5 separate regions of the Homo sapiens genome follow, and regions 1, 2, 4 and 5 are each linked to region 3. The links come from fine-mapping of genetic effects on gene expression. A gene starts in region 3. Each other region holds a variant in brackets. All regions are shown on one strand. Distances are between the middles of the regions.

What was found. PIP is the estimated chance that this variant, and not a neighbour inherited with it, causes the effect.
Region 1: its variant is fine-mapped to the expression of PLBD1 in whole blood (TOPMed, PIP 0.96).
Region 2: its variant is fine-mapped to the expression of PLBD1 in whole blood (INTERVAL, PIP above 0.99).
Region 4: its variant is fine-mapped to the expression of PLBD1 in whole blood (TOPMed, PIP 0.90).
Region 5: its variant is fine-mapped to the expression of PLBD1 in whole blood (TOPMed, PIP above 0.99).

What each region holds. Positions count from the first base shown.
Region 1 is chr12:14,639,154-14,644,259 of GRCh38, reverse strand. GUCY2C (guanylate cyclase 2C) reads left to right here. Exons shown (of 27, transcript NM_004963.4): 17 at 554-686; 18 at 3,041-3,178; 19 at 4,310-4,398. Among named protein-coding and RNA genes, the nearest start is that of GUCY2C-AS1, 24 kb to the left of the region's middle. The variant T/A (reference allele first, on the strand shown) is at 2,278.
Region 2 is chr12:14,528,730-14,533,835 of GRCh38, reverse strand. All of the region lies in intron 6 of PLBD1 (phospholipase B domain containing 1), which reads left to right. PLBD1-AS2 (PLBD1 antisense RNA 2) reads right to left here and starts at 3,697. Exons shown (of 5, transcript NR_187784.1): 1 at 3,595-3,697; 2 at 2,626-2,794. The variant A/G (reference allele first, on the strand shown) is at 2,516.
Region 3 is chr12:14,565,383-14,570,488 of GRCh38, reverse strand. PLBD1 (phospholipase B domain containing 1) reads left to right here and starts at 2,606. Exons shown (of 11, transcript NM_024829.6): 1 at 2,606-2,907. The coding sequence starts at 2,793. PLBD1-AS1 (PLBD1 antisense RNA 1) reads right to left here and starts at 2,757. Exons shown (of 6, transcript NR_120465.1): 1 at 2,683-2,757; 2 at 2,297-2,470. RefSeq lists silencers at 2,736-2,845, 3,585-3,761 and an enhancer at 2,659-3,340.
Region 4 is chr12:14,508,134-14,513,239 of GRCh38, reverse strand. It overlaps PLBD1 (phospholipase B domain containing 1), which reads left to right. Exons shown (of 11, transcript NM_024829.6): 7 at 1,529-1,729; 8 at 1,840-1,980. Among named protein-coding and RNA genes, the nearest start is that of PLBD1-AS2, 19 kb to the left of the region's middle. The variant T/C (reference allele first, on the strand shown) is at 3,091.
Region 5 is chr12:14,516,983-14,522,088 of GRCh38, reverse strand. All of the region lies in intron 6 of PLBD1 (phospholipase B domain containing 1), which reads left to right. Among named protein-coding and RNA genes, the nearest start is that of PLBD1-AS2, 11 kb to the left of the region's middle. The variant T/C (reference allele first, on the strand shown) is at 2,453.

The DNA.
Region 1 (5,106 bases), 74 kb before region 3:
TGAGTAGCTCGGCCTCCCAAAGTGCTGGGATTACAGGCATGAGCCATCACGGGGGCCAGGCTTCCCCTTTTGAAACAGAATGAATGAAACATTGCTTCAAAATAGGATGAAACCACTTCCACTTTAGGAAATAATCTAGCCTGGCACCCTGCCCCTTTGGAAAAGCAAGGCACTATTATTCATATTTTTATTTTAAATTCATGTAAAACAGGACCAGAGACCTACCCAGGGTCACAGACCAAATAAGTGGTAAGCAGAAACACTTAAAAAAAATCAACCCTTTGCCTCATATTATACACAACTACTTAAGCAGATATTTTAGACAATTCCCTTTTACTCTGTCATTTAAACAGACTTTGAAACTAGATATAAAGTGTAGGCAAATATTAGGGCTTCAGTAATATTGTTAAGGTAAAAATAGTGGGACTAAAATTAAAATCTGATGGTGTGACCATCTGCTGAAATGGTTTCCAAATGTCACTTTTTTCTTTAAAATAATCAAGCAGCTGAAGTGTGTCACATTTCTGTTTTTCTATCATCTAAAAAATTACAGGGAATGTCATATCTGCACTCCAGTAAGACAGAAGTCCATGGTCGTCTGAAATCTACCAACTGCGTAGTGGACAGTAGAATGGTGGTGAAGATCACTGATTTTGGCTGCAATTCCATTTTACCTCCAAAAAAGGGTCTGTAATGAATGAAATGTTCACTAGTTTCCTAACTGATTTTTTTTTCAAACCCATGTAGCGTGGTCAGGAAATTGTAATACTGATCAGAAGATAAGCACTTAAAGCCACAAGAGACAACAGCTGGCTCATTCTCCAGAACTTCACACTTGTCAGTCAACGAGTATTTCCTGAGTTAAACAAATGTCCTCTGTGGATTTCCTTCATCCATGCGTCCCTTGCTACACTGAGAAATCATGAATAACTTAATGGCTTGTGGGAGCAGAACTAGCTGAAAAAAATATAGAAGGTTAGAGCAGGAAGAGACCTTAGACATCGTCTAATTTAAGCTTTTTCCTTTATAGAGGACAGCACTGAGACTCAGATTTGTCCAAGAAGGTAGAGTACAAACCAGAAGACCCATTTCCCATTCAAGACATCATTCATTTATGTGTGGTAATAAGAAATGTTAAGGAAAAAACTCTAACCAGTAAAATATATTCTTACCTCTTTCAGGATTGTGGTGAGAGTCAAAAAAGATAACATAAAGAAAACGGATTTGTAAAGTATAAAGGGCTTTTCGTGTTGAACATTTACCCTTTCTTGACTATGACTCACAGTTAAACAGACTCAGATATCTAGAACTCATGTTGCCTTAAAATACTACCTAGATCCAAACACCAAATTATATTTCTAATTCAACTTTGCAATCCTTTCGTTTTTCCTTAATAAAAGGAAAATTGCGATTCTGTCCCTACATCCACAGCCATTTCAAGCATAATATGATATTGAACTCAATCTAATAATTTCTTATTGAAGACCTGTGCCAAGCCTGGTTCATGACATAGTAGTACAAATCGTCATCAGATAACCTAGCATGACACAAATCAGATAAATTACAGGTCAAATCCTATCATCTTAAACAGCACTCGCTTATACCTACCTACCTATGGCATCAGTTACCTAAAATTTTAGCATAAGTAGATTTACTTACCTTTTCTACAACCCCTAACCTTTATGATCAACTATGCATGAATCACAATTCACAAAAATTCACAAGACACAAATTCAAAAAGGTGATGTACATTTGGACAGAGAACCAAATAAGGAAAGTGTGCATCATCATAAACATATTATTGCACCTAACAACATGAAACTATACATGTTTCATTGAAACTGGTGAAGGTAAGTCTTAAAAAGTTTATAAGGAGCTAGGTGATCCTGAAAAACTTACGAAGCATGTTGAAGAAAAATTAATTGCATGCCCGTTATTACTAAATAAGGTGTGTAATAAGGATTCAAAACTCGAGTATCTATAGGAGCTAAATACAGCATTGCACTCATGTGAAGTGAGTGAACTAGATGTAAGCACTAGGGAGTGGCAGGGACAGGAGTAAACTGTGAGTAAATTACATGCGATACTTTTTTAAGAATACTGTGGGAACCAGCAAAAACACCACTGTGGACCCTAGCTGAGTTGCAGGCTGCCAGTATGTTATGCCTTGAAAATATCAGCCATAGTCTCTTTGTCTTAATGTACTGTCTTTATCTTCTTTTGGTAAATTTATATTTAAATATGCATATACACATTAACTAATAAATTATAATAATT[T/A]AAATAAAATAAATTTAGTACACATAAAATTTGTATTTTTTTTTTTGAGATGGAGTCTCGCTCTGTCACCCAGGCTGGAGTGCAGTGGTGTGATCTCGTCTCACTGCAACCTCCACCTCCCAGGTTCAAGCAATTCTCCTGCCTCAGCCTCCTGAGAAGCTGGGACTACAGGCACCCACCACCACGCCTGGCTAATTTTTGTATTTTTAGTAGAGACAGGGTTTCACCATATTGGCCAGGCTGGTCTCAATCTCCTGACCTTGTGATCCACCTGCCTTGGCCTCCCAAAGTACTGGGATTACCAGCGTAAGCCACTACGCCTGGCCAAAATTTGTATTTTGAAGGCTTTCATAGGTTCATTCCATATGTCCCATAAACTACTAAATTCCTCAGCCTCTCATATTCTACTGTATTCATTCAACATATATTTACTGAGCATTTACCACAATCAGACCCCATTCCAGGTAAACTTTGAGAGTTTTCAAGACTATGATCCTAGCAGTTTTAAATAACATATTGCCATATGACCTCACCCAAATCCTAACATTTCATAGTTAGTCTAAAAGGTGTGTGTTCTACCTTTGATCACCAGGATTAGCAAAAATTTTTCAAAAATTTGGAATCATATCAATTCAAGGCCACTTATAAGCTATCACCCATATTTAGAGTGGATGGTGTAGGGAATTAGAGAGCAAAAGCAGGTTGGAGGCCTATGAACCACTCACCCCCCTCAACTTTGTAATCTCAATGTCTACATTTACAGACCTGTGGACAGCTCCAGAGCACCTCCGCCAAGCCAACATCTCTCAGAAAGGAGATGTGTACAGCTATGGGATCATCGCACAGGAGATCATCCTGCGGAAAGAAACCTTCTACACTTTGAGCTGTCGGGACCGGAATGGTACATCTAAACCCATTCATGTGTCCCCTCTGGGAGTGAGCCAACCTGCTTTCTAGGCTTACTGAGACCCTAATCTGTCTGTAACCACATCACAATTCCTTCAAATGCAAAATTAATGATTTCCCATCTGCATTATGCATTTTATAAGAATATAAGGAAGATTCAATATTAGGGTGCACTGAAAAGCATAAGACAACATACACTGCCAGGTGTTATTATTGTCAGTATCATTGTTAACAATCTTCGTTTACAATTGTCCTCTTTCCTTTTGATTCCAATAAGAGAATGTACCTGCTTAACATCTAAACTAGATCACTCTAACAGGATGACATACATATTTTAGTTCTTACTAAGGGTAGATGTATAGTTTTTGGCCACACGTCCTCTCAAGGGAAAATGCTTCATTCCATTCATTCAATCCTCACTTACTGAGCATTTATTACGTGCTAACCGTTAACTGTTTGGTGGGGAGTAGGGTGACTAAGGGACGTGGAGAGGGTGGGTCAAAGTATGGACAGAAGAAGCCTACTGAAGGCAGTGGTGCCTGAGCTGAGTTTTACAGCGACAGTAGCATTTTTTCTTTTTTTCTTTTCTTTTCTTTCTTTTTTTTTTTTTTTTTGAGACAGTGTCTTGCTCTGTCACCCCCAGGCTGGAGTAAGTACAGTGGTGTGATCTTGGCTCATTGCAACCTCTGCCTCCCGGGCTGAAGCAATCCTCATGGCTCAGCCTTCCAAGTAGCTGGGACGACAGGTGCACACCACCACACCTGGCTAATTTTTGTACTTTATGTAGAGACGGGGTTTCACCATGTTGCCCAGACTGAGCTCCTGAGCTCGAGTGATCCCCCAACCTCAGCCTCCCGAAGTGCTGGGATTACAGCTTTGAGGCACTGTGCCCCACCTGGTAGCCTATCCTTAAGGTAACCTTCTGGTTATAAGTGGGATGAGACCCTTTCACTGGGTGCCTCATTGAATCAACACCTGTCTACTGAGTGCTGGTCTAGGCTCTGCAGCACTCTCACTGAGCTAAGAGCCATCCAGGGGAGTGAATCAACTGGATTTCTGTTGAAATTCCTTCCATTTCTTCATGCTGTATTCTTCTTTGTAATTTATATTTTTCTCACCCAACCAGAGAAGATTTTCAGAGTGGAAAATTCCAATGGAATGAAACCCTTCCGCCCAGATTTATTCTTGGAAACAGCAGAGGAAAAAGAGCTAGAAGTGAGTATATCTTCCCGTATTCATTTCCTTGGCCTGCTATAAAATTACCATAAATGTAATGGATTAAAACAACAAAAATTTATTCACTTACGGTTCTGGAGACTAGAAGTCTGAAATCAAGTGTTCAGCAAGGCCACACTTCCTCCAGAAGAGCTAAGGGGCTAATCCATTCCTTACTTCTTCCAGAAGCTTCTGATGGCTGTTGACATTTCTTATCTTATGGCCACACAATTCAATCTCTGCCTCTTGATCACAGTTTCTCTTCTGTCTATTCTCCCTCTGTCACCTTTCTATTAGGACATATGTGATTGCATTTGGGTCCACCCAGAAAATACAGAATAATCACCTCATCTCAAGAATTGTAACTTAATTATATCTGCAAAGGCTCTTTTTCCAAATAAGGTAGCATTCATAGGTTCCAGGTATTAGGACGCAGCATGTCTTTGGGAGCCAGCCTCAGCCTACCGCATTCTCCGTGCCTTTCCACCACTCCCCAACTCAGGAATGAGCTGGCTTCTAAAGCACACATCTCATTCTCTATTTTTTTTTTTTTTTTTTTTTTGAGACGGAGTCTTGCTCTGTCACTCTGTCACTAGAGTGCAGTGGCAGGATCTTGGCTCACTGCAACTCCGGCCTCCCGTCTTCAAGCAATTCTCCTGCCTCGGCCTCCTGAGTAGCTGGGACTACAGGCGCCTGCCACCACACCCA
Region 2 (5,106 bases), 37 kb after region 3:
AACCCAGTATTTCTCTGTCCTTGTGACCTGATCCTTTCTTTGAAACCAATTTGATTTCATCTTTGTCTTAGTTTGCTTAGTTGTTTTAGCATTGAGGGGGACTGGGGACTCCTCTCTCTGAGTTAGACTGTGCTTTGATTCTTTCACATTCTATTACACTGACATTTAAGGACAGCAAGAGACAGAGCAGTCCAGTATTCTTCCTCTTCCTCATCTTTGTGATAAAATGCAATATTCAGATGTTATGTGCACTGCTTTGAAATCTCTGTGGAATACAATGCTCTCCAGTAGTGTTAACAGTCCTGGATCCCAGAGGTAGTGATGGAGAAGGTCATGGAAGATTTTCTTATGAAACGTATAATCCTGTTAACATTTGCATATGTATCCTTCCAGATGAGATACACAAGTAGATTTCATAGATAATATGTAGAGCTTTTTGGAGCAATTGAATCTCCAAGAGAGCAACAGACAGTTTTATATATACCCCAAAACATTTTTACAGGAGCCAATGGAACAGTGGGATTCATATTTTCTCTAACTGGGCAGCTTTGTTCTCAGCACCAAACAGGAAAACATGTGCAGTCTCATTTATGTTACAACTTATTTTATTAAGGGACCAGCCACATTGGATTCATCCAGTAGACATGACATAGAACTATGCTTTACGATGAAGCTCATGCCATCTTAGCTGCTGAGTCCAGAACAAAGCTGGATGGCTTCCTTGTTTTTCTTTGATGGAGTTGTTTAACAGGCTTGGTCTTTTTTAGTCTTTTCTAAAATACAAAGTGGAGATTGAGGAAATTATTTCACCTAAAGAGGCTAACATGCAATACCCAGGGAAGGTCAAAAGTATACCAAAGTATACCAGGTGCTGATAACCTCAGTACCACCCTTAGGTCTGGGCACAGGAACCCCACCCTCCCAGCTTGGAATTACCTTCATGAAAATTACCTAAATCCCCCTCCAGCATCCTGAGACTGGCCAGGCTGGCAGTATCTTGACCTGTGTCTCTGTGCATCTAGTTTAGAAAGCTCCTTTCCAGAAAATTTCAAAATCCCCTTCTAGTGCCCAAGACTGACCAAGGTGGCAGAGCCATCCAGGTCAGCTTCTCTGAGTCCAGAAAGCAACGCATGTGGACTCCCTATCTGGGGGCTCTTCTCCTCCATTCCTGCCCACGCATGGGTTCAACAAGATGCCCTAAGGAGCTCTGGGACTCAAGCCTATGGCCTGGTCCTGGTAAGCAGATTCCTCTAGTTGGCCCTCACAGTATATATTTTTTGCAAGATGGTGCATAACTGAGCTGTCAGAACGGTGGTCACACGATGACCTGGGGTGACTCTCATGTCAGAGCATATGTTCAGGGCTCTATGCTACTGAAAACCACCTCTTACCCTCGGGTTTCAGCATGCAGCAGGGGAGGACGGTAAAGCGAACTTCGACCTATGAGCTCCACATCTGGCCCCTGTCGTGGCCTCCTCACCCCTGCAGCTCTGTACCATGTGTCGGTCAGTCCTTGGGGCGGGCTAGGCCTGGCCCCTCTGAGGCCTTTTGAGAACCTTGCTCCACAACACAAACGGGCCTTTGCAGCAAATCTTTTGCTGCAGTTGGTGATGTGACTTCCTACTGTCTTGGGTCAGTCTTAAGCCAGATGGATTTTTCTGGTGTGATTGGGACAGCTCTTCCAGCTCGACTTATAGGCTTCTCACCTATCCTACCCACTGGTGCCCGTGGGTGAGGAGTGAAGGTGGGGGAGGGTTCAGCATGAAAAGAGATTTGACTCATGAAGACTTGACTTAAATTGTGAAGCCTTAAATTATGAAAACTTTACTTAAATTTTCCTGGGGCTTTTAGCCTGTTCTTTTATCTTTTTATGTACCTACTTTCAAATACATGCACTTAACATTTAAACAGGCTAAGCAGGCTCATGCCTGTAATCCCAGCAATTTAGGAGGCCAGGGTGGGCGGATTATCTTGAGCTCAGGAGTTTGAGACCTGGGCAACATGGCAAGAGCCCGTCTCTGCAAAAATACAAAAAAATCAGCCGAGTGTTGGTAGCTCATGCCTGTAATCCCAGCTATTTGGGAGGCTGAGGCTGAAGAACAGCTTGAGCCCTGGAAGCAGAGGTTGCAGGGAGCCGAGATAGCACCACTGCACTTCAGCTTGGGGGACAGAGTGAGGCCTCGTCTCAAGAACAACAACAAAGAGATTACATTCTAGGGAGGCAGCAATTAGCCTGAAGAGTCCAACAGAAAACATGTCGATCTATGTTTACACTGTAAAATTCCCAGTGTAGCTTTAGTAACCATAAAACAAATTATCATTCACAATTTTTTTAACACTCTGGGTAAGGCTTGCATTTGTGGTCATCATTAACAAAGCATAATAAGGATTTTTGAGTCATTAGAAGCCAGGATTCACAGGTAGAGTGGTAGATGTCGCAAAGTCATTAAGAAAATGGTGTTAGGGAACTGCAGAGGCAAGGAGATCTGTGTTGTTTCAAAACAAACAGGTTCCA[A/G]AAAGTCATGGTTTTGTAATAACAGTATTGCTACCTTTTTCTCATAACAAAAAATAGGAAATTAGCCAAGAACAATGCATTTAATAATAAAGAATACAAAGAGATGGTACCTGGATACTGTAACAAATCTTCACGTGCACTGATTGGACAATAGACAAAACAGATTGCCTTTCTCTGCCCATCATCCTAAATCTTCAATGATAAATCATCATATCTCACATGTACTGATGAATTTTTAAATATATGTTTTTAATCAAATTGTTTATATAGGCAGGGGCCCTGTTAAAAAAGACAAACAAACAACAACAAAACAACAACAACAACAAAAAACACTTGCCTGAGGCACTGGATACCCAAAGGAAAGTGGCTTTGAATGGCCTTGTTCTAGGAGTTTCTGTCCCTAACAAGAAGGGTTTTGAATACATGGTCTGTTTGCCTAGTAACAGCTAAGGCTGAGTAAGGAATGGAGAAGCCTTGCACTAGCCCTCCCCACACATTTACTTATTTTGGCAATGCAAATTAATAATCAAGGAGGTAAGACAAAGAGATAAATCACTAGAAAATGACGGCACTGAAATGGCAGCCAATACAATTGTGTGAAGACCTCAGCACAAAGATCTGATAGTTTTAACCAATCCAGAGAAAATTTACTTGTCAACAACATTGAGTCTTCCAATCTACTAATATAATCTATTTGTTTATTTCAGTCTTTAATTTGAGTCATATCATGTAGTTTTCAGTATTTAGGTCTTACATACCTTTAAGTAAGTTAAATCCTAAGTAATGTTTGATGCTACTGTAATCAAAATGTTTTTTATTCTTTTTTCAGTTGTTTGTTGCTCATATGTATTTATTGGTTACCCATTGCCACATAACAAATTGCTCCAAACATTAGTGGCTAAAAACAATAATGATTTAGTTACTCATGGTTTCTGTGGATCAGGAATTTAGATAGGGCACAGTGGGGATAATTTGTCTCTACTGTGACTGGGGCCTCAGCTGGAAGACTCAATGACTGAGGGGCTAAAATCTCTGATAGCTTAACTGAGACTGGAACATGCACTTCCAAAACGACTTACTAACATAGCTGACAGGGTGGTGCTGGCAACTGGTTCCTCTTCACTTGGGCCTCTCCTCAGAACTGCTTGAATGTCCTTCATGGCAAGACCCCTGGCTCCAGACGAAGCCATCCAAAAGAACAAGGCAGAAATAGTAATGCCTATTGTGACCTCACCTCAGACGTCACACACGCTCACTTCCACCAGGTTCTATTAATTAGAAGCAAGGTGTTATGACCAGCCCACATTCAAGGAAAGGCGATTAGAATCCACCTTTTAAAGAGAAGGGTGCCAAAGAATTTGTGGAAATTTGAAAACTACCACAATGTATTACGATTTTTTTGTACATTATTATCCTGAGATCTTTCTAATAGCTTTTTTGTAGATTCCTTGGGATTTTCTATATATACAATCATGACATCTCTAAATAAAGACAGTTTGACTTCTTCCATCCCTTGTATGTCTTTGATTGTTTTTTTGTATGATTGTGCTGGAGAAGACCTCCAGAATAATGGAGACCATAAGTGGTGAGCATGCAAATCCTTGCCCAATTCCTGACCTAGGGTGAAAAGTATTGTCTTTCACCATTAAGTATGATGTTAACTGCAGATTTTTTGTAGATGCCCTTTATAATGTTAAGGAAGGTCCCTGCTCTTCCTACTTTCTTTAATATTTTTATCAATAAATGAGTGTTGCATTTTTCTGAATTCTTTCTCAGCAATTGTTGAAAAGATCATATGAATTTTTTCCTTTATTAATATGATAAGTTACATTGATTGATTTTCAGATGTTAAACCACTTGAAATTCCTGGGTTAATCCTCAGTCATGATGTGTTATTCTCTGTATTTATTTTTAGTTCAGTTTACTAACGTGTTAATGATTTTTTTCATTTACATTCATGAGACATATTTGTTTGTAGTCTGCTTTTCTTATGATGGTTTTTGTTTTAGGATAAGCTTATCCTCATATCCTAAATGTGGAATTATTTCTTTCTCCTAAGTGTTTTAAGAGCATGTATATGATTAGTGTTATTTTATTCTATTTATTTATTTATTTATTTATTTTTAAAGACAGGGTCTCACTCTGTCCCCCAGGCTGGAGTACAGTGGTGTGAACATAGCTCACTGCAGCCTCAAACACCTAGGCTCAAGTGATCCTCCTGCCTTGGTTTCCCAAAATGCTGAGATTACAGGTGTGAGCCACTGTGCCCAGCCCATTTTCTTCTTTAAGTGTTTAATAGAATTCACGCGTGAAGCTAGATATGAAGGTTTTTATTTGTTGAAAAGTTATTAATTGTAAATTTAATTTCTTTCACTGCTACAGAACTATTTCAGTTTTCTAACTCTTCTTGAGTTAGTTTTAAAAATGTATCTTTCAAGGAATTTATCCCTTCTTTCTAAGTTATTGTTTTTATTGATATGAAGCTATTTATAATGTTTTTCTTAACCTCTTAATGTCTGTAGGATCTGTAAAGTCCCCATTATCATTCATGATATTGTCCATTTTTCTTCTTTATTAAGATAAAATTTCCA
Region 3 (5,106 bases):
TCTGCATTTTTACATAAACAATACTGCAGAGGAAGCAATCAGATGTGCATTTGTCTCAGGTGAGCCTCAGAGGGATGACTTTTAAGTTCTGTCTTCCCTTTGTCCACAGGGAATTTCCTTGTGGGCAAACTGTGAGGGAGGTATGTAGCTTCTTATCTTTGTAGCTATCTTATTTCAGAATAAAATGAGAGGCAGGTTTGCCTGACATAGTTTCCAGCTTGACTTTTCCCTTGGCTTAGTGATTTTGGGGTCCCAAGATTTATTTTCCTAACTATGTGTGAGTTTTGCAGCTCATTTTCCTCCCAGATATGTAAAACTGGCATAATTTAAAGAAAGCAAGATTTATCATCTAATTCAGTGATTCTCAACTAGGGGGCAATTTTGCCCCCCTACGGGAGCATTTGACAATGTCTGGAGACATTTTCAATGGGGGTGCCACTAGCATCCAGTAGGTAAAGGCCAAGGGGTGTCCAGGACAACCCCCCCACAACAAAGAGTTGTCTGCTCCAAAATTTCAATAGTGCTGATGTGGAGAAGTCCTGATCCAATTAATTTGTTTATATGTATAATTTGCTCCCCACTACTGGAATGCAAGCTCTGCAAGGGCAGGGACTTTGTTTTGTCTACTGCTCTGTGCTTGGAACATGGGAGTCAACGAATATTTGATGACAAATAATAGATGAATGAATGCCTCAAGGTTCACATTAGGCATTTATATGCATCTTACTTCATCAGAACACTTGGCTCCTTGGATCAGAAGGGTTAGTAAGGTGAAGGAGGGTGGTATAGGGCAATATGACTCAAATATTTGGGGTGGCACCACTTCCTTGAACATCCTAATGTGGTTCTCTTCCCATCATAACACAACCAAAATTTTCATTTTTGGTTCATTTTAATTTTCTAACTTGAAGGAAAATGTGCAACTTTTACAATGTCCTCGATGTCTTCATTTTAATTTTTCTTCATTTAAATTTTCTAACGAAGGAAAATGTGCAACTTTTACAATGTCCTCGATGTCTTCGTTTTAATTTTTCTTCATTTTAATTTTCTAACTTGAAGGAAAATGTGCAACTTTTACAATGTCCTCGATGTCTTCATTCATTAAATGCCATTAAACATAATTGTGACTTTAATTTTAATTAAATAAAAATGAGTTGGAGTCTCCCTGTGTGGCACAGGCTTGTCTTGAACTTTTGGGCTCCGGTGATCCTCCCACCTTGGCCTCCCAAAGTGTTGGGATTACAGGCATGAGCCATGGTGCCTGGACCACAAAATTGTGACTTGTGTTTCACAATTTGCACAGAGATTTGATGAACTTTTAGGTTCTTTATCTTTTCTAACAATTACATTTTCCCCGTTATGAAAGGTACTGCTTATTCTCTCTTCTCATCTCTCCTTGACACCTAGGTTAAGCTTAGAAGAAAGGCCAAGAGGAAGAGTGGGGTGCTGAGGTTCCCATCTGAGAGGTGGCTTGTTCCCTCCTTCCCCCTCTCCCACTGCACCTTAAACATAGCTCTAACACAGTAGAATGGCAAGTTCTGTGTACTTGTTTATCTATATGGCTTAGTTCTTTTTTAAAAAAATTATTATTGTTATTATTATTATTTTTTTTTGAGACGAATCTCGCTCTGTCGCCCAGGCTGGAGTAGAGTGGCGCGATCTCGGCTCACTGCAAGCTCCGCCTCCCGGGTTTACGCCATTCTCCTGCGTCAGCCTCCCAAGTAGCTGGACTACAGGCGCCCGCCACCGTGTCCGACTAATTTTTTGTATTTTTAGTAGAGACGGGGTTTCACCGTGTTAGCCAGGATGGCCTCGATATCCTGACCTCGTGATCTGCCCGCCTCGGCCTCCCAAAGTGCTGGGATTACAGGCGTGAGCCACGGCGCCCGGCTGGCTTAGTTCTTTTTGTCTGTGGTGAGGCATGCTCTTAGCTGTCTTTATATCACTGGTATCTGGAGTATAAGATGGGCCCAGCCAATGCTGAGTGAATGAATGAAATGCCTTTTGCCTACTTCACAATGTCACCTAGGGCACCCGGTGCCAACTTCACAATATCACCCAAGGCATAACTTTTGACTACTTCACAATGTCACTTTTAACTGACCCCACACAGAAATGGGGACTCCACAGAAACGTAGGAGTGTGTCTAGTGTCAGCCCCGTCTGAATCACTCTCCTGTGGTGGCTCCAGCCAACGAAGAGGAAGCAAAAAGGATAAAAAATCTGAGCTACAGCGCATGGATTTAGGTTAAACAGCCTGGGAATGAGGGGTACGCTAATCGCTGAGGAAAACGCACCTGTGGAGGCCTCTCCAGAAACAGCAGAGGATCCGAGCTGCGTGTAGGCAGGGCGCGCATGTCACCCTGGCCCGGGCGCCTGGTCCGCTGCTGGAGATAAATGGTCGACCCCGGAGGGAGAGGCTAGTAGGGGTGTTGATGTGAACTGATTCGCCCAAGCCTTGGGCCGCAAAACTGCGAAAGAAAGCGGCAGGCAGCCTCTGCATTTCCCAGAAGTGCAGCTGGGGAACTTTCCCAGACCGGCCCAGGGGTTGCTAGAGGGTCAGACGTAAAGGATCCGCCTTTCCTAGGCGGGGTGGGCCCCAGGCCACCACGTGAAGCGTCCTCGCCCCTCAGAGCCCGGAGCAGGCCGGGCTCAAGAAAGAGGAAAGTTGAGGACGCCCCACCTCGGAGAGGCGGCGCCCCTGAGTAGGCCAGGAGCCTCTCTTGCAACTTCTGCCACCGCGGGCCACCGCGGCCGCCTGATCCCGCAGAGGAAGGTCGCGGCCGTGGAGCGATGACCCGCGGCGGTCCGGGCGGGCGCCCGGGGCTGCCACAGCCGCCACCGCTTCTGCTGCTGCTGCTGCTGCTGCCGCTGTTGTTAGTCACCGCGGAGCCGCCGAAACCTGCAGGTGAGCAGAGCGCGCCCTGGGCGGGGGGCGCCCGGGGAGGCTCCTAGGAGCCTGTTAGCGCCCGTGCCCCGCGTCCGGCCGAGTTGACGTCCAGCGGGCGTCTGGTTCCTGGGTGAACTCAGAGAAACGCGCCTCCGGCCGGCGGTCTCGCTCCAGCCCTGCGGCTGCGCAGCGAGGGCACTTGAGAAGGGCATGGCGAGTGCGTCTGCCAACTTTACAAGTTTTGGCCCGAATTCTTGGCCAACAAATCGGTTCGCTCCTGCGCCGATTCTTGGCCCACAGAGCCTGGGCTGGTCTTAAAAACTCCAGCCAATGGGCATCTAAATATATTTATCCAGATTGTAGGGAGGTATGGTTCCGGCTTGCCATTTGTTTTGTGTTTTAAAAATTTACATTGACTTTGGCTTAAAATCACGATTGCACGATTGTCAGTTTGATACGTGCCTGGCAGTGGGCTTAAGGGCCTTTTGGTTTTGTTGTTGTTGTTGAGACAGAGTCGCTCTCTGTGGGCGACGCTGGAGTGCAATGGTGTGATCTCGGCTCACTGCAACTTCCGCCTCCCGGGTTCAAGCGATTCTCCTCCCTCAGCTTCCCAAGTAGCTGGGATTACAGGCGTCAGCCACCATGCCCAGCTAATTTGTGCATTATTAGTAGAGACGAGGTTTCACCATGTTGGACAGGCTGGTCTCGAACGCCTGACTCGGGCGATCCGCCTGCCTCGGCCTCCCAAAGTGCTGGGATTACAGGCATGAGCCACCGCGCCCGGCAGTTTTTTTTTTTTTTTTTTAATATATAATCCTAAATAGGATTATATTCCCCATTCTGCAGATGAGAAAAGTGAGATTGATCAGAAGTAATTCGCATAAAGATAACACAGCAAATAAGACAGAGTTAGGGGATGCCAGAGGGCATTTTCTTAACTACTTCCCTCTTGGAAAAACAGGTTTTATCTCTACAGGTATTCATGCAAATCTACATCCTTTGCCAAAATTAAATTAAATTAAATTAAAAAGCCTTGGATTTATGATTTCCGTTCCTAAGGAGGTGAAGATTATGAACTGTAACTAAGGGACTTGAAAGAATTCTAAAGTAATAATAAGAGAATTAATTTTGTCTTATTTCATAATCCCCTTTTCTGTGCTGACCTTGTACAAGAGTAGGGTGGGGCTTGGGGGAGGATGCCCCTTCCTAAATATGTGTACTGATTCTTATTACACTACCTTCCATCATCAAGAGCCTTCGTTTTTGAGACTTGCTTAGTTATCACTCTTCAATCTTAAATCTTTCCAGTCTGTGGGATCAGATGTACCCACAGGCTCCTGACTCGTGATTTTCTGTGTTCTTTGCCTAAACTATGGAGGTGGCCTTGGTGTCTACTTCTAGTCTAGGGAGACAGCTCATTCAGAGGTACCTGGGGGAGGCTGGGGAGGGTCCCAAAAGTGGAGGTAGCTTTTGTGTTTGGAATGCTGGCTAAAATCTTTATTCCTTTTCTGTTTTTTTGGACGAGTGAGATTAAGTGTTTTTGTAGGTGGAGGGGGCAGCCTGAGGAGTGAGACAGGCGTTGTTTTTCTGAAGATGGAGCACTATTTATTCAAGAAGGTACCACCTTGTAAGAAACTGCATCTTAAACAGTTCCTCCAACAGGAAGCTGACTCCATGCTTGGAGGTTCTGGAGCCAAGGCAGAAAGTAAGGACATTTCTGAGATGAAGTGATCCTGACAGCACCATGCCCAGCAATCTGGAAAGGATTCTTACTTACCTAGGTGTTAAGGACATCTGGTGATGCCACACTATTTCAGCAGATGAGATCTCTGTTTCCTTTGTCCTACCCACATTAATCTGTTTTCCCTTGAGGCTTTTTGGGTCTTTGTCTTTACCCTTCTACTAGCCTGCGAACAACCAAAGAGTAAAGAACTGGGACTTGCTACCTCTCACTTGTCATGTGTTCTCTGAAGTACCCAGCTCAGTACCCTGAACTTAGTAGGAATTCAGTAAACACTAAAGGGATTGCATGTCCATCCCCTTGGAATGGATTTTATATCCACTCATATGCATCTATCTATCCAAAAACAACTTCTTCAATTTTTAATTTTACTTTTTTTTTTTTTTACTATTATTTCCTATTATTTTTATTTTCCCCCCAGGCTGGGTACAGTGGCGTGATCTCGGCTCACTGCAACCTCCACCTCTTTGGTTCAA
Region 4 (5,106 bases), 57 kb after region 3:
ATATATCAGAATATCATTTTGTATGCCAAAATATATACAATGTTTCCTTGTCAGATATCAAAATATCCTTTCTTTTGTATAACATAAATATATATAATTTTTACTTGTCAGTTAAAAAATAACAAAAATATTAACTAAATGATAGTTCAGATAGTACTCAGATATGGCAAAAATGATAAAAGTGGTAAAAAATCATGGTAGAAATTTGAGACCATCTCAGTCCATTCTGACTACTATGACAAAACACCTCAGACTAGGTAATTTATAAGCTATAGAAATGTTATTGCTCACAGTTCTGGAGGCTGGGAAGCCCAAGATGAAGGGACTGGAAGACTCAGTGTCTAATGAGGGTCTGTTTCTCGTAGACAGTGCCTTCTCTCTGTGACCTCACATAGTGGAAGGGGCTAGCTAGCTCCCTCGGGACTGTTTTGTAAGGGCCTTAAAACCCTTCAGCAGGATGCACCGAAGGAACTTACCACTCTGGCCCCTTCTAACCCTACCACTGAGGTCCTTTTCTGTTTAACACTGACAGTTGTTCCATTACTGTTACTGATGACAGTATATCCTCTCTTTTTATTACAGCTGTGCCTGATATTCTATCCTTTCCATACTCATCCCAGTATAAACCACAAAATAGGTCTTCAGAAAAGACTGTGGCTTCACTGATTTTCCTGTGTTGCCTCCAACATTTATAAAAAAGCATTGACCAAGAGTGTCAATGCCCTAGTTTCAAAACCATCTTTACTTTTCTAAATGTAGATGTTTTTCCATTTATAAAAATTATGTAGACTTAGCCGGGTGTGGTGGCCCACACCTGTAATCCCAGCACTTTAGAGGCTAAGGTGGGTGAATCACTTGAGGTCAGGAGTTTGAGACCAGCCTGGCCAACACGGTGAAACCCGGTCTCTACTAAAAATACAAAAATTAGCCAGGTGTGGTGGTGCACACCTGTAACCCCAGCTACTCAGGAGGCTGAGGCACAAGAATTGCTTGAACCCAGGAGGCAAGGTTGCAGTGAGCTGAGATCATGCCACCACACTGCAGCCTGGGTGACAGAGTCAGACTGTGTGTCAAAAAAAAAAAAAAAGTAGACTTATACAAAATTTGAAAAATACAGGAAAGTAGAAAAGAAGAAAAAAAGGCATTTATATTCTTACTAATGAACCCTGCTAATCCCCTCCCTAATTAAAAATTCTCCTGCAAAATCCTAGCAAGTCGGGATCTACATCTGTTTATCATTCTGGAAGCTTGCAATGTTCTGGATTTAACATATTTTTGTTATTTCAAATCACAAAATAAATTTTCAATGGAGAATCCAGGGGTGGAGTTCTTTTGGCACCTCTATAAGGGGCAGTTGGGTGACTACCACAGAGGTGAGCCAAAGCTGGGGGAGGCTACTGCAGATCAAGGATAGTAATAACTGATACACTTTGCAAAATGCATTGTGTATGTAAAGCTCTTTGTCAATAATGATGGTTCACTGTTCCATGTATACATATGCTGATGTGTATATTTGTCTTTCCTGTAGGGTTTTTGGAGTCTCTGGATGATTTTTACATTCTTAGCAGTGGATTGATATTGCTGCAGACCACAAACAGTGTGTTTAATAAAACCCTGCTAAAGCAGGTAATACCCGAGACTCTCCTGTCCTGGCAAAGAGTCCGTGTGGCCAATATGATGGCAGATAGTGGCAAGAGGTGGGCAGACATCTTTTCAAAATACAACTCTGGTAAGTGACCCTGCAGAATAACTGTTAGGCACAGACATATATTTTGATTTAGGCTTGTTAACCAGTAAAGTCATACCCATGCCCCGTCTTCATGTTTCCTGATATTTCAGGCACCTATAACAATCAATACATGGTTCTGGACCTGAAGAAAGTAAAGCTGAACCACAGTCTTGACAAAGGCACTCTGTACATTGTGGAGCAAATTCCTACATATGTAGAATATTCTGAACAAACTGATGTTCTACGGAAAGGTACTTTCTTCATGTCGTAAGTCTTAAAACCTGATGAGTATGTGTGTGTTCATATATGGTAGGGGAATGCACATTGTGTGAATGTGTGGTGGGGGAGGGTATGGTGGGGAAGACAGGATGGGGATGCTATATTACACCAGAATGACCAGGTTTAGCACAACATGTAAACCTACATCTCAAACTCTTATAGGACAATGTGCAGATTGGGACGCAAATCAGGCATTCATGACTCTATGATTTCTCATAGTTCTAATGTTACCTTTTCTCCTGTGTTCCTGGTTAAAGCTTTAAGTTCAATTCAGCAAATATTTTTGGAGTGCCACTGTGGCCCAGGGACTAGAAAAGCAAGGATACAGAATCCCTGACCTGGAAGGACTCAGGAGTCTAGTAGGGAAGCAAAGCACTCAAAGCAGCTGCAGGAACTCAGGATGGGAAGAGCTGTCATCAGGTCTCATGTCCCTAGGCCAGTGGTGAACCTAAACAGAACGTGGCTGTTAGTGGGTGGAGTCAGAGAAGGCACTTCTGGTGGGCAAGAAGGAGTCCAGACATTTGAAGCCAGGAGGCTCACTGCCTTGATTCAAATCTCAGTTCCTTAAAATCTCAGGCAAATTAGTGAATCTCTCCAAGCCTCATTTTCCTCATCTATAAAACTGAATCGTGATATAGGTCCACAACCACGTATTTGTAATTTTAAAATTCCAAAATTGTAAAACCACAAATTATTATTTTGTTTCTCTTGTTTTGCTTTGATTTGGTAGCCTAGCTCACTTGGTAGCAAGAAAATGACCTGATCTGAACTCACTTGGCAGCAAAAACTACCAGAAAGAAACTTTTAGTGGTTTTTAATTTTAATTTTTATTTTTCTTCAGATGGAGTGTCGCTCTGTCACCCAGGCTGGAGTACGGTGGTGCGATCTCGGCTCCCTGCAACCTCTGCCTTTCGGGTTCAAGCGATTCTCCTGTCTCAGCCTCCTGAGTAGCTGGGACTACAGGCACGTGCCACCACACCTGGCTAATTTTTTGTGTGTTTTTAGTAGAGACGGGGTTTCACCAGTTGGCCAGGTTGAACTCCTGACCTCAGGTGATCTGTCTGCGTCGGCCTTCCAAATTG[T/C]GGTGCCCAGCCTGTTTTTTTAAATTGTCTTTATTTCCTCTTAGAGACACCATGTATACATTAGGCTACAGAAATATCAACATCTTTGATTATGAGGTGTTTCCCAAAGAGACTGTAATGTCATATAATCCATGCACTCCATGGTTGTTCTAAAGTCTGAAAAACCCTAAATTCTGAGACTCATCTGGCTCCCAAGAATTTCTGGATGTGGGAGTGTGGAACTCTACAATTTCACAGGATGGTCATGAAAATTAATTAAGATAAATAGATAGATTTATTGAGAGAAAATGTTAGCTTTAAAAATCCTACTGGACAGTTCAGACTTTATGTTTTAGAAATTGGGAGTTCCTGACAAGGGAGAATAGACTGGGTGGGAAGAAAAGAGACTAGTTAGGAGACTATTGCAATAGATCAACTGGCAGATGAATAGGGACAGAACGGAGATAAAGTGTGGACCCTAGGGATCAGGACCTGGTCCTCAGTTTTCCAGGTCCCCAAATTGACTTTGTAATGATGCCTAGAGTGAGCCTTGTCAGTGGAGAATGGGTCACACCAACTAAATGCACTAAGACTTATGCATAAAACAAAAGGTGGGAGTTTCATTGCCAAGCAGTTCATATGCTACCAAGCAGTGGACCTACCTTCTTCTTTGCTTGTTAGGAAAATCCATCCAAGAAGTCAAATCATTAGGTGGTTACTGTTTAGCATAGAGCAATTCAAAACAGAGAACCCAGCTCCTAAGAGCCTGAAAATAATAGCATGCCTCAAGAGAGAGAGATGCTTGCTAAAGTAGTCTTTTCTTCTTTGGACAGTTGCTGATAACAGAATGGTAGACTTGGTTCTCTGCAGTCCCATTCCTAGACCCCTTGAAACTCCCTAAGACTAAAAAGAGTTGATGATGATCTGTCTGTATTTTTTTTTCTTTGCCAGAGGAGAGAAGAACAGAGAGTTAAATTCAGAGTACCTACTGCATTCTAGACACTCTTCTGGGCCTTTTACTTATGTTCTCTTGTTTGATGTTTGTAACATACTACCCCATAAGTGTTATTGTTGCCATTTTACTGTGAGTAAAGAAAAGCTCAGAAAGAAACATGTTTTGCCCAAACAAATACATGATATCATATAGCCATTAAAAAGGCGGGGGCGTCGGGGTCGGGGGTGGGCACATCTCCTAACGTATTTAAGCAACTGTGGTATGGTGATAGAAGCCCTGGATGTTTTAGTTAGAAGGCCTGTATTCTGTCAAGTTTTGTGAGCCAAGGAAGACAATTGACCTCTCTGAAACTCTGTTTCTTCTGTTTAAAAAAGGGATGGTAATACTTATACATCATCAGGTTTTTGTGAGATTAAACAAGCTGCTCTATTTTCTTTATTTATTTTGAGACAGGGTCTCGCTTTGTCACCCAGGCTAGATTGCAGCTGCGTGATCTCGGCTCACTACAACCTTTGCCTCTCGGGTTCAAGCGGTTCTCGGGCCTCAGCCTCCCGAGTAGCTGGGACCACAGGTGTGCACCCCAATGCCTGGCTATTTTTTTATATTTTTAGTGGAGGCAGGGTCTTGCCATATTGCCCAGCCTGGTCTTGAACTTCAGAGCTCAAGCAATCCACCTGCCTCAGCCTCCCAAAGTGCTGGGATTACAGGCACAAGCCACTGCACCAGGCCAAGTTGCTCTGTTTTAAATCACGAAGCTTCATGAAATGTGAAGTATAAAGTAGACATTTTCGTTATTCATTTGAGCTGTTTTCACAAAGAGAAATATAATAATCTAATGTTTACCAAGTATTAGATACTATTGTAAGCACTCCATCTGAATGCATTTCATGCTCATGCTTATGAAGATGCTTAATGCTGAATAGTTAATGAAGATGAAGAAACTGAGGCACAAAGGGGATAAGCAATTTGTTCAAGGTCACATACCTAATAATGGCAGAACCAGGCTTCAAATCCAGGCAATCTAATTCCTGAGCCTATATAACCTAGATATGTTTTAGCAACAAATCTGTTTTTCTTCTTTA
Region 5 (5,106 bases), 48 kb after region 3:
TTTCTTCACTCTTCAAGCAAAGAGCTGTCTTCAGTTCAGAAATTCTTTATTCTGCTTGGTGTAGTCTGCTGTTGGAACTTTCCATTATATTTTTTATTTCATTCATTAAAGTCTTCAGCTCCAAGAGTTTTTTTTTAATGATATCTCTGTTGAATTCTTTATTCATATCATGATTTGCTTTTCTGATTTTATTGAATTGCCTATCTATATTATCTTGAATCTCATTGATTTTCCTTAAGATCATATTTTTAAATTTTTTATGCAATTAGTAAATTGCCATTTCTTTAAGGTCAGTTATGGGAGAGTTATTGTGTTTTTTTGGTGGTATCATGTTTTCTTGCTTTTTCATATTTCTTGTGTCCCTGCACTGATGTCTGGGCATCTGATAGAATGGATGCCTCTTCCAGTTGTATAGAGTTGTTATCATAGGAAAAGATTTTTGCCTGCAGATGTGTCCTAAGGTGTCGGTTGTGGAGGATGCATTGGCTGTGGTTCCAGGTGGATGCAGTAGTGTAGTCACCATGCAGTTTTTTCAGCTGTAGTCAATGTTAGCAATTTCTATGGATGCCTCAGTGGCATCCTAGCCTGGAGGAGTTTGTATGGCAGCTCTGTCAAATCATATGCATGGCTTTTCTGCTTGTGGCAAGGGTGCCAGTTTGTTTCATGCGCCACGGGTGCACAAGGCCTACTCCAATAGGATTAGACACAGTCTGTCCTCTGGGGGCAGGAGTGCCAGGCTGTTACACACACCGCAAGTGCATAGGGACTGCTCCTTCAGGGTAAGGTGTGGCCTTCCTGCTGGGTAGGATCATCTGTTCCTTGGGCGTCAGGACACCACATGGGCTCAGGCACCAAGGTTATGGCTGTTTCACTGGGCCTATGCTCTGAGTAATTGAGGTTGAGGTGCTGTGCCACAGGGATGGGGAAGATGGAGTGCATCGTAGGCAGCTTATTCCTGGTGGATAGGAAACAGTAGCTGCTCAACTGGTGAGTGGTGTGCTACTGTTTACAAGCACAGTGTACTTGCAGCAGAGCCTCAGGATGGGGAGAAACAAACAGTGGTTACTGGCCCTCCAGAGCACAGTGTACTATAGTAGTGGCACCGGTCTCAAGATAGTGCTGTACATCAGCAGCTTAGATCACAGAGGAGAAGGAGGCACAATGTGGGCTCATTCTTTGGAGTAATACAGCCATGTGAATGCCAGGCAGCTCCCTAGAATGGGTTCATGACTTGTGAAAACTGCAGAATTCTCAAGCAGCAAAGACTGTAGGTGTTTGCATCTTTAATGGAGATTGCTGGGAGTTCTCCTGCTCACGTTTTCTCCGTAGGGAGACTGCCTCCTGGTTTCATACCGACCTTGACTGGGAAGACGAAGTGGCAAAGGCAGAATGTTTCATTCTCTTTTTTATGCAGCCATCCCAAGTCTCCATGCTCCACTGGGTCTCTGCCCCTCCCTTATTGTACTCCTTCGGAACACTTTAGTGTTCTCCTTTGGATACTCTAGTCAAAATGTAGTTGTTTATTCATCATTTTGGTTCCTTTTTTTTTGTAGGGAAATGAATGTTAGGCACCTCTAGTCAGACATCTTGCTGAAGTCACTTGTTTTACTTTTTTTGTTGTTGTTTTTAACAGGCAATTACCTTGCTTGCACTCAAACTTCAACATATGTCACCTGCACAGTGTGCAGCAACCAATGTCCTTCCTCAACACTGCTGCTTCAACCTGGTCTTCTGGAGGTTGCTCCTGCATCTGTGTAATTTAGCAGTCAGTGAAAGATGTTGGCAGCTCAAATTCATATTATAGAGCTAACTCTCTTTGTGATTTCCTTGATCCTAAGGTTTCCCCTATATTCCCATTTGCTTTTCCAGCTCTTACCTTTGTCCTCTGAGAGCCTGAGGAATTTGAGCTGCATATGAGTTGGGAACCCTGGCAGTGTAAGTTGCAGCAAACTCACCTATCTCAGTTCTAGAACATTTCTGTCTTACAAGGGAAAACCCTTCTCATTTCTTTCTGTTTTTACCCTGGGCTCCCTGGCATTTCCCACATTCATGCACAGTTAGTGGTCAGTCAGGGAACAGGACACAGTTCATATTCAGATTTTGGATCTCTGCTCTTCTTGTGGTTCTCTTGCTCCCAAAATTTTCCTCTTAAATTCTCAGCTGTTCTGCAATACTAGACTTTGATCTCACCATCTCAAGCCAGAATGGCTCTAGTTTTCCATAACTAGAGTTGGGTATGGGCTATATATTAGTTTGCTAAGGCTGCCATGACAAAGACTGGGTGGCTTAAACAACAGAAATTAATTATTCTCACAGTTCTAGAAGCTGAGAGTCCAAGATCAAGATATTGACAGGTTTGGTTTATCTCTTTGGCCTACAGATGGCCACCCTCTCACTGTGTCCTCACATGGCCTTTTCTCTGTGTGGGCTATACCTGGCATCACTTCCTCCT[T/C]TTTTTTTTTTTTTTTTTAAGATGATGTCTCACTCTGTCATCCAGGCTGGAGTGCAGTGGTGCGATCTCAGCTCACCACAACCTCTGCCTCCCAGGTTCATGTGATTCTCCTGCCTCAGCCTCCCAAGTAGCTGGGACTACAGGTGCATGCCACCACACCCGGCTAATTTTTTGTATTTTTAGTGGAGACAGGGTTTCGCCCTGTTAGCCAGGTGGTCTCGATCTCCTTACCTCATGATCCACCTGCCTCGGCCTCCCAAAGTGCTGGGATTACAGGCATGAGCCACCACGCCCGGCTCACTTCCTCTTCTTATAAGGACACCGGTCATGTTGAATTAGAGTTTGCCCATATGACCTCAGTTGACCTTAATTACCTTTTTAATGCTCTGTATCCAAATATAGTCATATTTTCAGGTACTAGGGGTTAAGACTTCAACATATGAATTTTGAGGAAACAGAATTCAGTCCATATCACGGGTTTAGGAATACACACAGGCAAGGAAGCCTCATACTCCATCTTAACCAATGCTGTACTAATGTTCTGTTTCTCTCTGCCTTTGGTCATTCCTAGTATCTTCAGATCATTGCTTTAAATAATTTTATACAGTTTTATAATTATTATTTGTGGGAAAATCACTCAATTTTATCATGCTGCTATTATTGGAATACTCACCCTTGATACGAGCATTTTTTTTTTGGCTGGGTAATACATAATACCCTAGTGCTTTTCATATTAACAAAGAGTAGCACAAGAGCTCCTTTTAGAAGGTTTTACTAACCTTCAGGCCAAGTAAGTTATCTCTCCTTTGAGCTTCCTAGGTACCCTGTGCATAATTTCTTCAAAGCCCATATTCTGTATTCATGTCTGTGTCCCAGGATGAGCACAGAGCCTTGCATATTATAATCATTGAATAAATATTTATGGAAGGAAGGAGAAAAGAAGGAAGGAAGAAAGAAGGATTAGAGGGAAAACAGTAAGGAGATAGATTATGTCCACTTTGATGTGGACATGGTAGGAACTGTAGGAAAGAAAGACGGGCAATAAAACAAGGAGGAGGTGGGGGCTGCCTAAGAGATCACAGTTCTTATTGTAACTTGCTTTCTATTCATCCTGCCCTCCCTTTCATACCCTAGATTTGAGAACAGGAGTCTAAGATGTTCAGGAATTGTAAGCAAGGGACTTCAGATGCAAAACCTATGTGTTCAGCACAGGACTTGTTACTTGAAGCAAATCCTTTGTGATAAATAACATGAATGGGACCTGACTAGTTTTATGGGAATTAGGCAGAATTTAAGTTTTAAATAAATTACTATAAGCTTGTTTGTGTTCAACTAGTTATTAAATAGAAAGGAAAACAAAAAACCTGAATATGTGTTTAGCCCCTACCATGTACCTGGCTCTGTCCCTGACACTGTGCACATTTTGTTTTTGTCTGTTTTGGGGGTTTTGTTTTCTGAGACAGAATCTCACTCTGTTACCCAGGATGGAGTGCAGTGGTGTGATCTCAGCTCACTGCAACCTCCGCCTCCCAGGTTCAAGTGATTCTCGTGCCTCAGCCTTCCAAGTAGCTGGGATTACAGGTGTGTGTGACCACGCCCGGCTAATTTTTGTATTTTTAGTAGAGACGCGGTTTCACCATGTTGGCCAGGCTGGTCTCGAACTCCTGGCCTCAAGTGATCCGCCTGCCTCAGCCTCCCAAAGTGCTGGAATTACAGGCGTGAGCCACTGTGCCAGGCCAACATTTTGTTTTTATTATGTCATTTAATGTTCATAAAAACCTAACAAGAAGGGTATTTTTAAAATCAGTTGTCTACCATTAACTTCTAGTATTGTATTTTCTTAACAAGCATACAAAACATCAAACTTCTCTTTAGACAAAGTGCAGTTCTTTGACATCCTTTACACAAAACAGTCTGAGCCTGTGGCATGTTAATGCAGTCGAGAGGCAAAGCATACTGACTTTTACAAATTCTGCCTTCCATAAAAAGCCTCAAGGAGGGTATTTTGTCTGCATTTTTAAAATAAACAGTTCAGAGAAGTTAAATAGTCAAACAGGTCAAGGTCACACAATTCAGTGGTTGAGGACTGGGTGCAAAGGCAATATATCTAACTATAAATATCCATTTCTTTTTTTTTTTAGAAATGATGCAGTTTGGATTTAAATTAAATGGCTAAAACTGAAAGAGCCGGCTGGGTGTGGTGGCTCACACCTGTAATCCCAGCACTTTAAGAGGCCAAGGCAGGAGGAGCGCTTGAGCCCAGAAGTTTGAGACCAGGCTGTGCAACATAGCAAGACCCCCGTCTCTACAAAAAATTAAAAAATTTAGCCAGGTGTGGTGGTGCATGCCTGTAGCCCCAGCTACTCAGGAGGCCTGGTGGGAGGATCCTTTGATCCTGGGGGTTTGAAGCTGCCTTGAGCCTTGATCACGCCACGGCACTCCAGCCTGGGCGACAGAGCATGGCCTGTCTCAAAACACAAACACAAACAAAAAACTAAAAGAGCAGTGAACTCAAAGGATTTCCTGCCATGCCAGGTGGGTGGAGCTTCTATGTGGGAATAAAAGATGGAACCTATTTAAAGGACTTTTTTTTTGTTTGAGATGGCGTCTCACTCTGTCGCCCATGCTGGAGTGGAATGGCGTGATCTCAGCTC